Regions from separate parts of the Homo sapiens genome. Here regions 1 and 3 are each linked to region 2. The links come from fine-mapping of genetic effects on gene expression. A gene starts in region 2. Each other region holds a variant in brackets. All regions are shown on one strand. Distances are between the middles of the regions.

Region 1 (4,209 bases), 62 kb after region 2:
TCCTACCCTCCCCTTAGAGAAAAGAATCTTGAACCTCAAAGAGAAGTGATGCCTGCAAGGTCACAGCAGTGACTGGGGGCCACCCTGGTCCAGAATGGGTGAGTGTCAGCCAGGCGGCCCTAGAGGTTGTTGTGCTGGTTCCTCTGCCCTCTCCTAGATTCCCCTTTCCTGATCCTTTCCCACTGAGGCAGCCAATGGAAGCGGGAGCCTGCCTGGGAAAAGATGGAGAGCCAGGTCCTCTGGCTGCAGGGGGTGGCGATGAAACCCAGCTGAGACATGATCTCCCAGAGGTCAGGGTGGGGAAGTTCAGGTTGCTGAGTCCTTTAGTATAGCCTGGCAGAAAACAGGCAGGGGTAACAGATGCCCTGCAGCAACTGGGAGGAAGCTGCAGGGAAACTGCAGTGGTGGCAGCAGGCTCCCTGCCACATCCTGTTGGGAGGTGACCTCGGTTTCTGGTGCCCAGCTCTGTGGGACCAGATGGTGCTGGGGGAGGTGGAAAGGGTGAGAGCTTTGTACTTATCTGAGTTAGAGGGTAAGAGGGGCTAAGAGGTCGGGGGGGGAATAAAGGCAAAATGCCTTTAGGATGTAATTTGCAATAATCAAATTACAAATTTGGCTGAGTCCTTCCTGTACCCAGACAGAGTATAAGTGAATCAACGTGGTACCTGGGAATTGCCAGCTTCCTGAGAGCATCAGTATTCTTGGACATTTGTCTTTTGAACAGCATAGTGTTAAGTAAAACATGAATTCAAATCTCAGCCTCACCATTCATCAGCAGCTAATGGGACAAACTCCTGACTGTCTCTCAGGCCATGGTTCTGGAGGAGTTGTTGGGGTCACAGAGCCTTCTGGAAGGCTGTTCCAATGCCACCCTCATATTCTTGGTCACAGAGCTTTTCCACTTCAATTTCCCCAAGTGCTTAATTACCCAGAATATTCCTAGCCTGGTGGATTCCCTGTCTCTCTGGGCTCTTCTGAAAATATCAGAACACAGACTGGAGCTCTTCCTACAGAATTATATTTGTATTTCTTGTTAGAACAAACAACCATAACTTAGGATAAGATATTGGCACAGTGCCCTTCCCCTCATGCTGTCAGCATTCTGATTGTACGAATACCTGTCAACTCGCTCAGGAAAGTTCAGTCTCCTCCGACTGCAGTGTTTTCCCTGGGGTCCTGGCCAGATCTCTCCCCTGGGGTCATTTTATTTCCTGCCCTTCTGGATCTGTGAACTGTGTTCCCAGCCCCTGGCTGCCCCAGATGTCATACTGCCTGACACCAATGACTGGCTGGCCTCCAAACCCACCCCTCGCTATTTTCCCAGAAGAAGGGATCCTTACCTATTTCTCTTCTCAGTCCCCATCTTTTTTTCTCTTTCCTCACTTCCTGTTAGATGGCTTTTGTTCTGGTGCTTTTCTGCCAGCCAGAATGTGACTTTTACCCTCTTCTGAAGACTTTTTCTCTCCAATTAGTCGGCATTCATTCATTCGATCATCAAACACTTTCCATGCCCCTACTTTGTGTAAGCCCTGGTGGATGAAAACAGGCACTAGCCCTGTCCTTGTGGAGCGACATTCTACTGGAGATCAACCTTGATGGAATAATCTCACAATATATAGAATCACAAAGAGAAGTGCTGTGAAGAAAGGCATAGGAAACCATGAAATTGTATCCCAGGTATACATGACAGAGTCTGAGGATTCAAAAAGTCTTCCTTCAAGAAGTGATGTTTGAACCCAGATCAGAAGGGAGTTGAGAGGCAGCTGGGGAGGGATGGAGGATGAAGGGAGGATGATCTGGCAGGGGAATGGCCCAGTTCTCAACCTTGGGGCAAATTGGAATCATCTTGAGAGCTTTTAAAAATATGGATGCCTAGCACATGTATACATATGTAACTAACCTGCACATTGTGCACATGTACCCTAAAACTTAAAGTATAATAATAATAATAATAATAAAATATGGGTGCCTGACCAGGCGCGGCAGCTCACACCTGTAATCCCAGCACTTTGGGAGGCCAAGGGAGATGGATCACTTGAGGTCAGGAGTTCGAGACCAGCCTGGCCAACAGAGTGAAACCCTGTCTCTACTAAAAACACAAAAATTAGCCAAACCTGATGGCACGTGCCTGTAGTCCCAGCTACTCAGGAGGTTGAGGCAGGAGAATCACTTGAACCTGAGAGGCGGAGGTTGCAGTGAGCTGAGATTACACCACTGCACTTCACCCTGGGCGACAGAGTGAGGCTCCGTCTCCAAAAAAAAAAAAAAAAAGGATGCCTTATGCTAAAGTGGTAAAAAAATTTTTTTTAATAAATAAATAAAA[G/A]TGTGGATGCTGCCTAGGTTCAGTTCAGTTTTCAGAAGTCTTGATGGAATTGGTCTGAGGTGTATCCTGGGTATCAGAGCCTTTAAAAACCAAGGTACTACCCTCACAGTTCTTCCACATTGCTAGGGAGTACACTTTCTGATCATATCTTTTCAAGACATGTCCTCACTTCTTCAGCACCAGGGGAGGGTAAATGGGCAGAGCATATACTAATGTTCTATTTTCTTCCAGAAGAAATGAAAGAAACCCACATCCAGAAATTCCTCTGTAAAGATCCTACATTGGCTGGGTATGGTGGCTCACGCCTGTAATCCCAGCACTTTGGGAGGCTGAGGTGGGCGGATTACTTGAGGTCAGGAGATCGAGACCAGCCTGGCCAACATGGCAAAACCCCGTCTCTACTAAAAATACAAAAATTAGCCTGGTGTGGTGGCACACACCCGTAATCCCAGCTACACAGGAGGCTGAGGCAGGAGACTCACTTGAACCTGGGAGGCAAAGGTTGTAGTGAGCCAAGATCGTGCCACTGCACTCCAGCCTGGGCAACAGAGCAAGACTCCATCTCAAAAAAAAAAAAAAATTCTATATATAAGAAAAACAAAAGTTTTTTAAAACAATAAAAGTTAACAGTCAATAATGTGTTTGTCGGCAAGAAGCCCTCTGTTAATAATGGTCTAAACAAATAAGACATTGTTTTTCTCCAATAAAGAAATCCAGAGGCAGGCAGTAGCTGGCTTTGATTCAGCCTCTGACTGTCACTGTCAGGGCCCCAGGCCCCATGAGCCTTTCGTCTTTCCTGCATGTTGGCTTATCTTCTCATGCTTGTGACTTCCTGGTTGCAACACGGCTGCTGCAACACCAGACATCTTGCCTGTCTTCAAGGCAGGAAGGAGGGGGAAACTATCGCCTACCAGCTATTTTTCTTACCTTAGCTCCTCCATGTCTTGGATCAAAAGCATCTCTTTGAACCTCTCCCTCAGGCATACCCTGAAATGCTGTGGACTTTAACCTTTTTTCTGTTGCAAAGGTCGCTCACATCTCCCTGGTTGTTTGGTCTTCTCTTCCTTGGCTCTAGTAACACAGCAGTCTGTTGCTTCCTAGGACAACTTATAATGGGACCCAAAGGGGAAAGAGGATTTCCCGGGCCTCCAGGAAGATGTCTTTGTGGACCCACTATGAATGTGAATAACCCTTCCTACGGGGAATCTGTGTATGGGCCCAGTTCCCCGCGAGTTCCTGTGGTAAGGCTTTCTGGGAGAAGTCTGGGGTGGTTATCCGTGAGGACCTCTCACCTGATCCTTATGGGGCTTTGTAAAATCCTTTCAGTAAAACTAACTTTTTTTCACGACTCTGAGTACACCCTCATTATAGGAAATTGGAAAATATGAGAAAATCAAGAGGAAAACCAAATTGTCCATTTGATTGTGAGTCCATTTTGGGGTATTTTCTTTGTCTTATTAAAATCTAACTTTTATATGGTTGAGATTATATTGTATAAAAATGTACTTTTGGCCGGGCATGGTGGCTTATGCCTGTAATCCCAGCACTTTGGGAGGCCAAGGTGGGTGGATTATAAGGTCAGGAGTTCGAGATCAGCCTGGCCGATACAGTGAAACCCCATCTCTACTAAAAAATATATTTAAAAAATTAGCCGGGCGCGGTGGTGCACGCCTGTTGTCTCAGCTACTTGGGAGGCTGAGGTGGGAGAATCGCTTGAACCCAGGAGGCGGAGATTGCAGTGAGCTGAGATAGCACCACTGCACTCCAGCCTGGGCAACAGAGCGAGACTCCGTCTCAAAAAAAGTTATACTTTGTTATCTTAGTTGAAATCCTGCCATGTTTCCACACTCTATAAATAACATTTTAAACTTTTTATTAGGGAAAAT
Region 2 (4,209 bases):
GCTAAATGGGGGTACCCTCTCTTTAATCTGTCCTATAAATTTTGAATGTAGTTCAGGTATATTTTTCATGCTTTCAAAAGCTTTCCTTATCAACTCTGTATCAGTTAGCTATTGCTGATGAGCAAGTCATCCTAAAACTTACTGGTTTGAAACAATAGCCGTTTTATTTGCTCATGACTTCGTAATCTGGGCTGGGCAGTTCTTTCGAGGGTCTCACTTGGGGTCACTCCTGTGGCTGGCATCATCTGAGACCAGGACAGGGCTAGATGTTCCAAAATGGCCTCACTCGCCTGTTGATGCTGCATCTGGGATAGTCAGAACAGCTGGAGGCTGGCTGCTTCCCCCTCCATGTGGCCTCTTCAATAGTCCAGACTTTTTAAAGTGGCAGCTGATTTTCAAGAAAAGGCAAAAGCAGGAGCTGCCAGGCCTTTTAAGGCCTAGGCCAGGAGATGGCACAGTGTCCCTTTAGCCACATTCTATTGGTCAAAGTAAGTCACAGAGCCACCTCAGATTTAAGGGAGGGGAACTAGCCCTGCTTTTTGCTGGGAAGAGTGTCATGCACACACTGGGTTGGGAGGACTTTTGGAGGCCATCTTTGCACCCAGGCTACCATGGCTCCCTTGGGTCTCCTTTGTGCTGTTCCTATGTGCAAGTTCTAATCCGTGTAGGATTCATCCCCATTACCTCACTTAACTTTCCAACAAACCTTTAAAGGGAACATTGTCTCCATTGTATGGATGAGAAAACTGAGGCTTAGAGAGGTGAGCTTGTCCACTGCCACTCAGAGCTGAGAGTCAAGCCCAAGTGTGGTGCTACAGCTGTAAAATATCACTTTATACCACGCCCTGACCCAACTCCACCTTCCCCATAATGAGCACAGGGGCAGGATGCCCACCCCAGCATCCAGTAACTAGCAGACTGTTTCTGAGTTAACTCCTATGAGGCATGTAATATGTAAATTAAAGCAAAATGAACAACTCTGTGAATTATTATTTTGTTTTAGTCATCTAATCATCTCTATAACAGGCTTTTATAAACTCATAAAAGGTATTAAGAATGTGATAATTTTTATTTGAATAATTTTGTCTAGCCAAAGATTAAGTTAGTGATGTTATTTTTCTGAATATAGTTTGATAAAAATCATTCACTTTTCTATACTTTTACTGTTTTCATTTATTTTGCCTTGCATTGAATCAAAAGGTTGCAGCTTTTGGAGAGAGAAACACTTTTTCACAGAGAAAGCTGTTTGGAAATATAAACTACTTCCTTCCTCCTTTTTATTGGATGATTAAAGAAAAAAATTAAAAGTTAACTTTACATTTGTTACACAATGGGTAAAAATGTCACAGGCTGACAGTGGAGGGGTTTTTCTCCATGAAATTCAGTTTGAATCAGGAGAGTTGTTTCTGCCCAGTTCCAAGGAGGTAGATGGTGGCACATAACCAATTAGGAATCTCTCTGCCCTTGAGGACTGCCTCCAGTGAACATCTGAGACTTGGCTGCCTTCTCATCACCTCTTCACTAGCCACTTACCTCAGTCTCCAAAAAAGAAAATTTTGACATCTTAATTTTAATGTGGGCATTTGATATGGAGCTTGAGATAAATATAACTCTCTGTAGCATGGAGACAGTTTAATGGGAAATGGTTGGCATTCTTTCTTGGTAAAGGCATGGGAGACAGGAGAGGTGGGGGAGGGAGAGAGAGGGAGGGGGTGAGGAGGAGGGAGAGGGAAAGAGAAAGAGGGAAAGACACACACACACACAGACACACACACACACGCACACACACACACACAAACACACGCGCACGCAAACAGCAGTGAGGAAGAGAAAAGCAGAGATAAGCAAGGCTCCGCAGCAGCCTCCTTTCTAACTTGACCCTCGCCAGACCCTGGCCAGCATGGTTGTCCTGAATCCAATGACTTTGGGAATTTATCTTCAGCTTTTCTTCCTCTCTATCGTGTCTCAGCCGACTTTCATCAACAGCGTTCTTCCAATCTCAGCAGGTAAATGATGGCCACAACTTTCCTCTCTTCCATCTGTCAGGGGACAGGGGGAGGAAGGAAGATTGTTTTGCAATGTGTCCTGATGTTTTTGCCATTCAACTGTTGGTGGAGGGAGGTTGGAAGGAAGACGGCCACCCCAGCAGCTTCCTGTCACCCGAGCTTGTCTCGGAAGCCCCTTCTGTCCTTGTTCCAACCGGCTCCTACCTGGCTGCTCAAAGCAGAGACACTTTGAAAAATGGTTTCTGCCTCCCCTATTCTCCCCATTTGCTGCATGATTTCATCTTGGTCAGGAATTTGGGAGAGCTTAAAAGAGACAGAGGTGTGCAAGTAATAGAGAAGTGAGTCTCAGATGTTTCTATAAATACATCTCTGACCTCTTCGAAGGGGGCTTGCCTCACAGGGGCTGTTGTGGAGTAAACAAACCTCTTTCCAGACCCAGATAGCATCCATGGCCACAATAGTCCCTCGAAGGGAAAATGCAGGTGGCAGGGGCCGGTGGGGTGGGGGGTGAACAGCGGCGGGGCAGTTGCAGCCTCAGGACTAGGTTTTCCCTTTCTCCAGACCTGTCTTCCTGGGTGCGACTTCCCTTCAGCCTCAGACAAGGCAGCTGGAGGTCCTGAGAGAAGTGAGCTTTCCAGGGAGAAGTGGAGGGGGTTCCACAGTGACAGCCAGGTCTGGAGCTGAGTGTGTCTGCCGGGTATGAGGCTGGGAGATTTGGGGAAGGGGCTGTGTCTGCCAGCCTGCAACCTTTTCTGAGGTCAGCAGCCTGTTGCCCTTGTCTTGTCTGACCCAGAGCAGGGGAAGTATTCGGTTACTAGTATGGCCTATTTAAACCTTTCTGAGGAAACTCAAATGTTTCCGGAGGGCTTGAAGGAGGCAGGCAGACCCTCACAGCCCCCCTCAATTCACCTCAGTGACCCCTGACTCTCCCCAGCAAAGTTTTAGTTATGCCTCCAACATGAGTCTCATAAATACTTCAACTGAGACAGAAATTTCACTATCGCTGCCTTTGCTGGAAACACAGGGAGGGCCAGAAATGCCAGGCTCTCAGAGAGGGCACATCTCTGAATCCAGCTCCCAACTGCTGTCCATTGATAAAAACAGCTCATCAGCAAGTTGTGTAGCCAACGTTTGTGGGCCATGAGGGAGTGACTCAGAGACTGGTGTGAGGCTAATTATAAAAGTGTGAGAAACAGAAGGAGGTGGGGGCAGATTTGTGGAGAATTCAGGAGGGTGGGCAGGAAAGGTGAGTGGTGGTGTCACCGTGGGTGTGTGCCCACATGCCCCTGCAAATTCAAGTTAAGAGCATCAAGCTTCTTCTAGGAGTGAGTAGTCATTATTCATTCCCCAGTTCAAGGGAGAAGCTTGAGAGTTAATTTGGCCTAATTTGGTGGTTCTTAATCATGTTTGGGTCATGGATTCCTTTGAGAATCTGCTGAAGGTTAGGACTTAAGGAAACTCAGTTTTCTGGTTCTAGCCCTGCCTCTGATGAGCTCCCTGACTTCTGAGAGACAGTGGCCTTACACTATAAGCACCATGTGGCCAGGGCATGTGTCTCTCTTGTACTTTACTGTTTTCCCAGGGTCAGAACAGTGCCTGGCACATAGTAATCAATAAATATTTGATGAATGAATGAATAAAAGCTTCTCATCTGCAAACTGGGGTTTACCATCATTTTGTATTACTTAATTTAAATAGCACCAAAGTGGTTAAGGAGTTCAGAAAACTAGAGAGAAAAGAACCTCTGGTTTTCTTTTGAACTCTTTGCCTTGGAGAGCACCCTGGCACAACATAGATATCTCTTAGGTAAGCTTTTTGCAGACTGTACCAATCAGGGCAACAGCAGGATAAAGAAGCAACTCAGGTGGTTCAGATGAAAAGATCTGAATGAAGGGATCACTTTGAGAGGTGTGGGCGGGGTTAAGGGAACCAACAAGGAATGCTGAGGCACCTAGAGATTAGCAACTGCAATATGCCTTTACCACCCTGTGCTTGAAAAGGCAAGAGGGGCAAATAGGAAAATGGATCCCAGGCAGATTTGGAGCCTTAGAGAAGGGGCCATTAAGCAAGAGCATTGGTCATGGAAGGCCCTAAAGCAGGGAGAAAGTGAAGGAGAAGTACACCATCTTCTCTCTCCTCCCATCCAAGCACCTTTTGGCAGCGCCTCTCATTGGCCAACCCAACTTGAAGCCAGAGGGCAGAG
Region 3 (4,202 bases), 23 kb after region 2:
GTGAAAAGTGGCAAAACTTCCATCTCTGAAGGTTTGCGAAATGAAATTTGAAAAATGAAGAGCTGCAAGAATATGACTCAGAATAGAGAAAGTCAGGAAAATGTGATGCAGATACTTCTGCAACTCTCTAGGACTCAGGACTGAGGACTCCCTGGCCTTATTGCTACTTTCTCTGAGGTCTTAGACCCAGTTTCTGAGAAGGACAAAGGGGAATTCCCCAGAGAAGGAACACAGCCTAAGCCTCACCTCCCACTCCTCCCATCTTGATATAGCAAGTCTCTGCTTTCAAGTATCAGCTCAAATCCCACCTCTTCCAGGAATCCTTCCTTGATATCTCACTTGGACCCTCTACCCCTCAACCGTTACCCATTTCTTCCTTCTATAAATCCCTTCAGGCATCCCTGCCCTATGTTAGCCACTCTTCTTTTTTTACCTTATACAACAGTTATCCAAGAATATGTCAATAAGAGAGCCCTTATTCGGTGCCAGGAATTCCAAAAGCTGTAGCTCTAATCCTCACAGCAAACTATCAAAGTCGGCTTTGCACGCCCACTTTATAAGTAAGAAAGCTTAGACTCCGAAAGAATGAATAACTTCCTCAAGGTCACACAGCTACTAAGTGGCAAAACCAGGACTTAAGCCCAACTTGGATGACTCCAGGGCCAGTACTCTTCCCGTGACACTGAACGACACATTCCAAGGGCGGGAACTGTGTCTAGTCATTATGTCTTGCACAATTTGGTACTTACTGTGTTTCTGAATGAATAAAACAGTAAATGAATGAATGAACATAAGTGTCCTTTCTTTTGAAGGTTATAGTGCAGGGCTTGGCAAACTACAGCCTGTGGGCCGAATCCAGCCTGCCTCCTATATTTGTGTAAACTTTTACAAAACATGACCAATCTCATTCCTTCATGTATTGTCTATGGCTGCTGTCCTGTACAATGGCAAAGTGAGGTTGTAACGGAGACCATGTGACCCACAAAGCCTAAATATTTACTATGTTGACCTTTATAGCAAAAGTTTGCTGACTCCTGCTATAGCTTATGGTCTTTACTAAGCTGATCAAAACAACAGTGCTTATTGCTAAGTAGTATAATAATAATCTTGTCTTTTATAATCTAAAATATTGTGTGTGTCCATGCTTGTGCACTGGGTGTGCCTATAAAGTACCAGATAGATTTAAGCATGTAACTGGTATATGCCGCTTCATCCAAAAAGACTTGCCTACATGCCCTTTGGAAATCTATATATTTTGTTTGTTTGTGGTTTCGTTGTTGTTGTTTTAGTTACGTTTAGCTTTGTCAGCAACACTTTGGCCCAGACAGGATTAGAGCTGAGACCCCTGGCCATGAAGGTCTTCCCTGAAGCAGAGGAGGGCAGGCTCCCCTTGGACGGTCTCGGTGGGGGGTTGACTTTGAGGCTTACCAGAGCAGTCAATACTGCTGTGGTATTTTGAGTCAAGTCGGTTTTTGAGCCAAATGAAAAGCAGCCTGTTTGATTGCTCTCAATTTCCTCTTGGCTTGCAGGGGGATAAGTATCCCTGGGCTCCCAACCTCATATCCTCCCCTGGGCTGAAGGCACTCTTGTCCTCCAAGCCTCCCCTACAGCAGTGTTCATGGGCAGCTGGAGCAGGGCTGCCTACCCATTGCTACTCCCAGGAGCTCAGGACTGGCTCCAGACCCCTGGCATCTGGAGCAGAAGCAACATCAAAGCAGGGATTGGCCAACTCCCACCCCTAATGCCAAACAGGCCAGGCACTGGGAGCACTCAGAGGCGTGACGAATCTCAGCCTGTCTCCGGCTAGTGTTCCCTGGCCAGTCCGCTTTGGGCCCTGCCTCACAATGACGGGCTCATCATTCAGCCTCGCTCATCTGCTCATCATTTCAGGACTGCTCTGTTACTCGGCAGGCTGCTTGGGTGAGTTGTGTGTGCGTGTGTGCACGTGTGTGTGTGTGTGTG[G/TGTGTGG]ATGCACATGCATTGTTTTGGAAAAAAGACTCTTGGAAAGCAGACTGTACTAGGAGGTTTTAGCAGCCTTTAAATTTTTTTTCTTTTTAAGTTTTTCTTTCACAGGGCTGTTTCTCATTGTGAAAGCCTTTAAATTTTAAACTGCTCAGCCAGTGTTGAAGTTGCAATGCAAAGGGGTTTCACAGTAGAGTTGGTGGGGACCTGGCATACATGCTAACGGGTGTGTGCACTTGTCTGTGTCCCTCTTGTGACCTTGACTGACACAAGTACCTTGTGCTGGCAGCTGGTACCTTGGCTGGCAGCTGGTACCTTGGCTTTGAAGTAAAATCGTGTTCTGTAGTCTGGGCCCCCGCTGGCGTTGGGTGGCTGAGACAGTCTCCATCACTCTTGAGTGGACTGCCTTGGGTAATTTGGCTCAGAGGCACAGCCACCAAACCACAAATTGTTCTTTGTAGGTTGTATCCTTGCCTGCTCAGGGACATACAGCAGAAGGCAAACTCTACCATGTTCTTTCAGAGAAGTTCAAATTACGTGCAACTTTTAGGATCAGAATTTGTCTTTCAAGGTTTGTTGTGGGGATTGAAGGAAAATTGTAGGGTGCAGCCTTCTCTGGAACATGTGAATTGGGGGGAATTTTGGGCAAATTGCATTCAGTTAATGTAAGAACTTTACTGTAGCTGAGACCCAACTCACTACAATAAAGTCAAAGCACTCTGAGCTGCCATACAGCGTGTGCCCTTGGCTTTCTCTCTTCTTTGGGGTCTGTCTCTCTCATGCAAGTTCCCACAGGCAGGGAAAGGCCCCAAAAGAGGAGGAGGAAGTAAAAAGCTGACTAGTCCACCAACTGGACAGGCAGGTGCAGAACAGTTAAATGGCTGCACTTGTAATTCTCTCAACCTGCTGAGGCAGGATGCTTATGTCACTTCTTTCCTTTGACAGTTTCTAATGACACATTTGTTGGATTGAGGGGGTGGGAGGGAAGGCTACTTGATGGAAAAACAGAAGGCAGAAATGGAAATGGCTATTTCCAGTAACCTATTGTGGGGCTGGCCTTGCAAGAGGGTAGATGAAGATGGATACAGTGGTGGTTCTGGTGTCATACTTATTTTAAAAAGGGACTAAAGGAGGCCAGGTGCAGTGGCTCATGCCTGTAATCCCAACACTTTGAGAGGCTGAGGTGGGCGGATCACCTGAGGTCAGGAGTTCAAGACCAGCCTGGCCAACATGACAAAACCCCATCTCTAGTAAAAATACAAAAATTAGCCAGGCATGGTGGCACTCGCCTGTAATCCCAGCTGCTCAGGAGACTGAGGCATGAGAGTGGCTTGAACCCTGGAGGCGGAGGTTGCAGTGGGCTGAGAACCCACCACTGCACTCCAGCCTGGGCAATAGAGTGAGACTTCGTCTCAAAAAAAAAAAAAAAAAAAAAAAAAGGCAAAAGGACTTTGGAGATGATTTGGGCAAAACTCTTTGTGGTACAGATGAGGAAACTAAGTTTCAGATTGAGTAAGTGAGTTGTACTGGCTCACATGGCCACTTGCACCTAGACTTAACACTCTTTAATCAAATCCATGTCTTTCCAAGAGTAAATTGGAGAAAATCGCTTTCCAAAGATGTGCCTCAGTTTCTTGAAATGAAACAAGAGAAAGTCTCCTTTTCAAGAATGGGTATTGAGTCCAAAGGGCAAAACCAGCATCATCGACAACAAAAGCTTCAAACACTTGCCAAAGCCTGCATTAAACAATTACCCATAATTTGGCAATGCACTGGCCACATACAACATGAGCTTGATGTCTTTAAGTTGGGACATGCGGTCCTGAAGTTCCGTGATGGTTGGCATTTCCAAGGCAGCTGCCTGGTGCTGAGCCACGTGCTGCTCCCAGGTTTCTGCAGGCTCCACGGAGATACGCACAGGATTGCTTTCAATACAACAGAGCCTTCCGGGGCTTTTCCAGACTGGAGCCTGAGCTCAGACACAATTCTATAGAGACAGTCCATGAGAAAGACCCACAGGCCACTCGGATGACACCAAAATAGACATGTGAAGTCCTGGCTTAGTTGACTGGGAGGGAGGAGGGAGGGGGAAGCTGCTCCCAAACACGTCCACCTGATGGAAATATTCTGAACAGGAATGAGCTGTAAATAAACTAGGCTCCTAAAAACAAATAGCTTCAGGGAGTCAGGGGAGGGCAGAAATAGATGGCCTTCCCCTGCTGGGAAGAAAGTGGGTCAAGGGGGAA

The links. PIP is the estimated chance that this variant, and not a neighbour inherited with it, causes the effect. A credible set is the group of variants that fine-mapping cannot tell apart.
Region 1: its variant is the best candidate, but not a certain one, in a credible set for the expression of COLQ in thyroid (GTEx, PIP 0.80).
Region 3: its variant is the best candidate, but not a certain one, in a credible set for the expression of COLQ in naive CD4 T cells (Schmiedel 2018, PIP 0.62).

The regions. Positions count from the first base shown.
Region 1 is chr3:15,457,541-15,461,749 of GRCh38, reverse strand. COLQ (collagen like tail subunit of asymmetric acetylcholinesterase) reads left to right here. Exons shown (of 17, transcript NM_005677.4): 13 at 3,425-3,564. Among named protein-coding and RNA genes, the nearest start is that of EAF1, 32 kb to the right of the region's middle. The variant G/A (reference allele first, on the strand shown) is at 2,324.
Region 2 is chr3:15,519,317-15,523,525 of GRCh38, reverse strand. COLQ (collagen like tail subunit of asymmetric acetylcholinesterase) reads left to right here and starts at 1,820. Exons shown (of 17, transcript NM_005677.4): 1 at 1,820-2,006. The coding sequence starts at 1,901.
Region 3 is chr3:15,496,230-15,500,431 of GRCh38, reverse strand. The region is part of intron 1 of COLQ (collagen like tail subunit of asymmetric acetylcholinesterase); the gene reads left to right. MIR4270 (microRNA 4270) reads left to right here and starts at 4,124; the gene lies at 4,124-4,193. The variant G/TGTGTGG (reference allele first, on the strand shown) is at 1,963.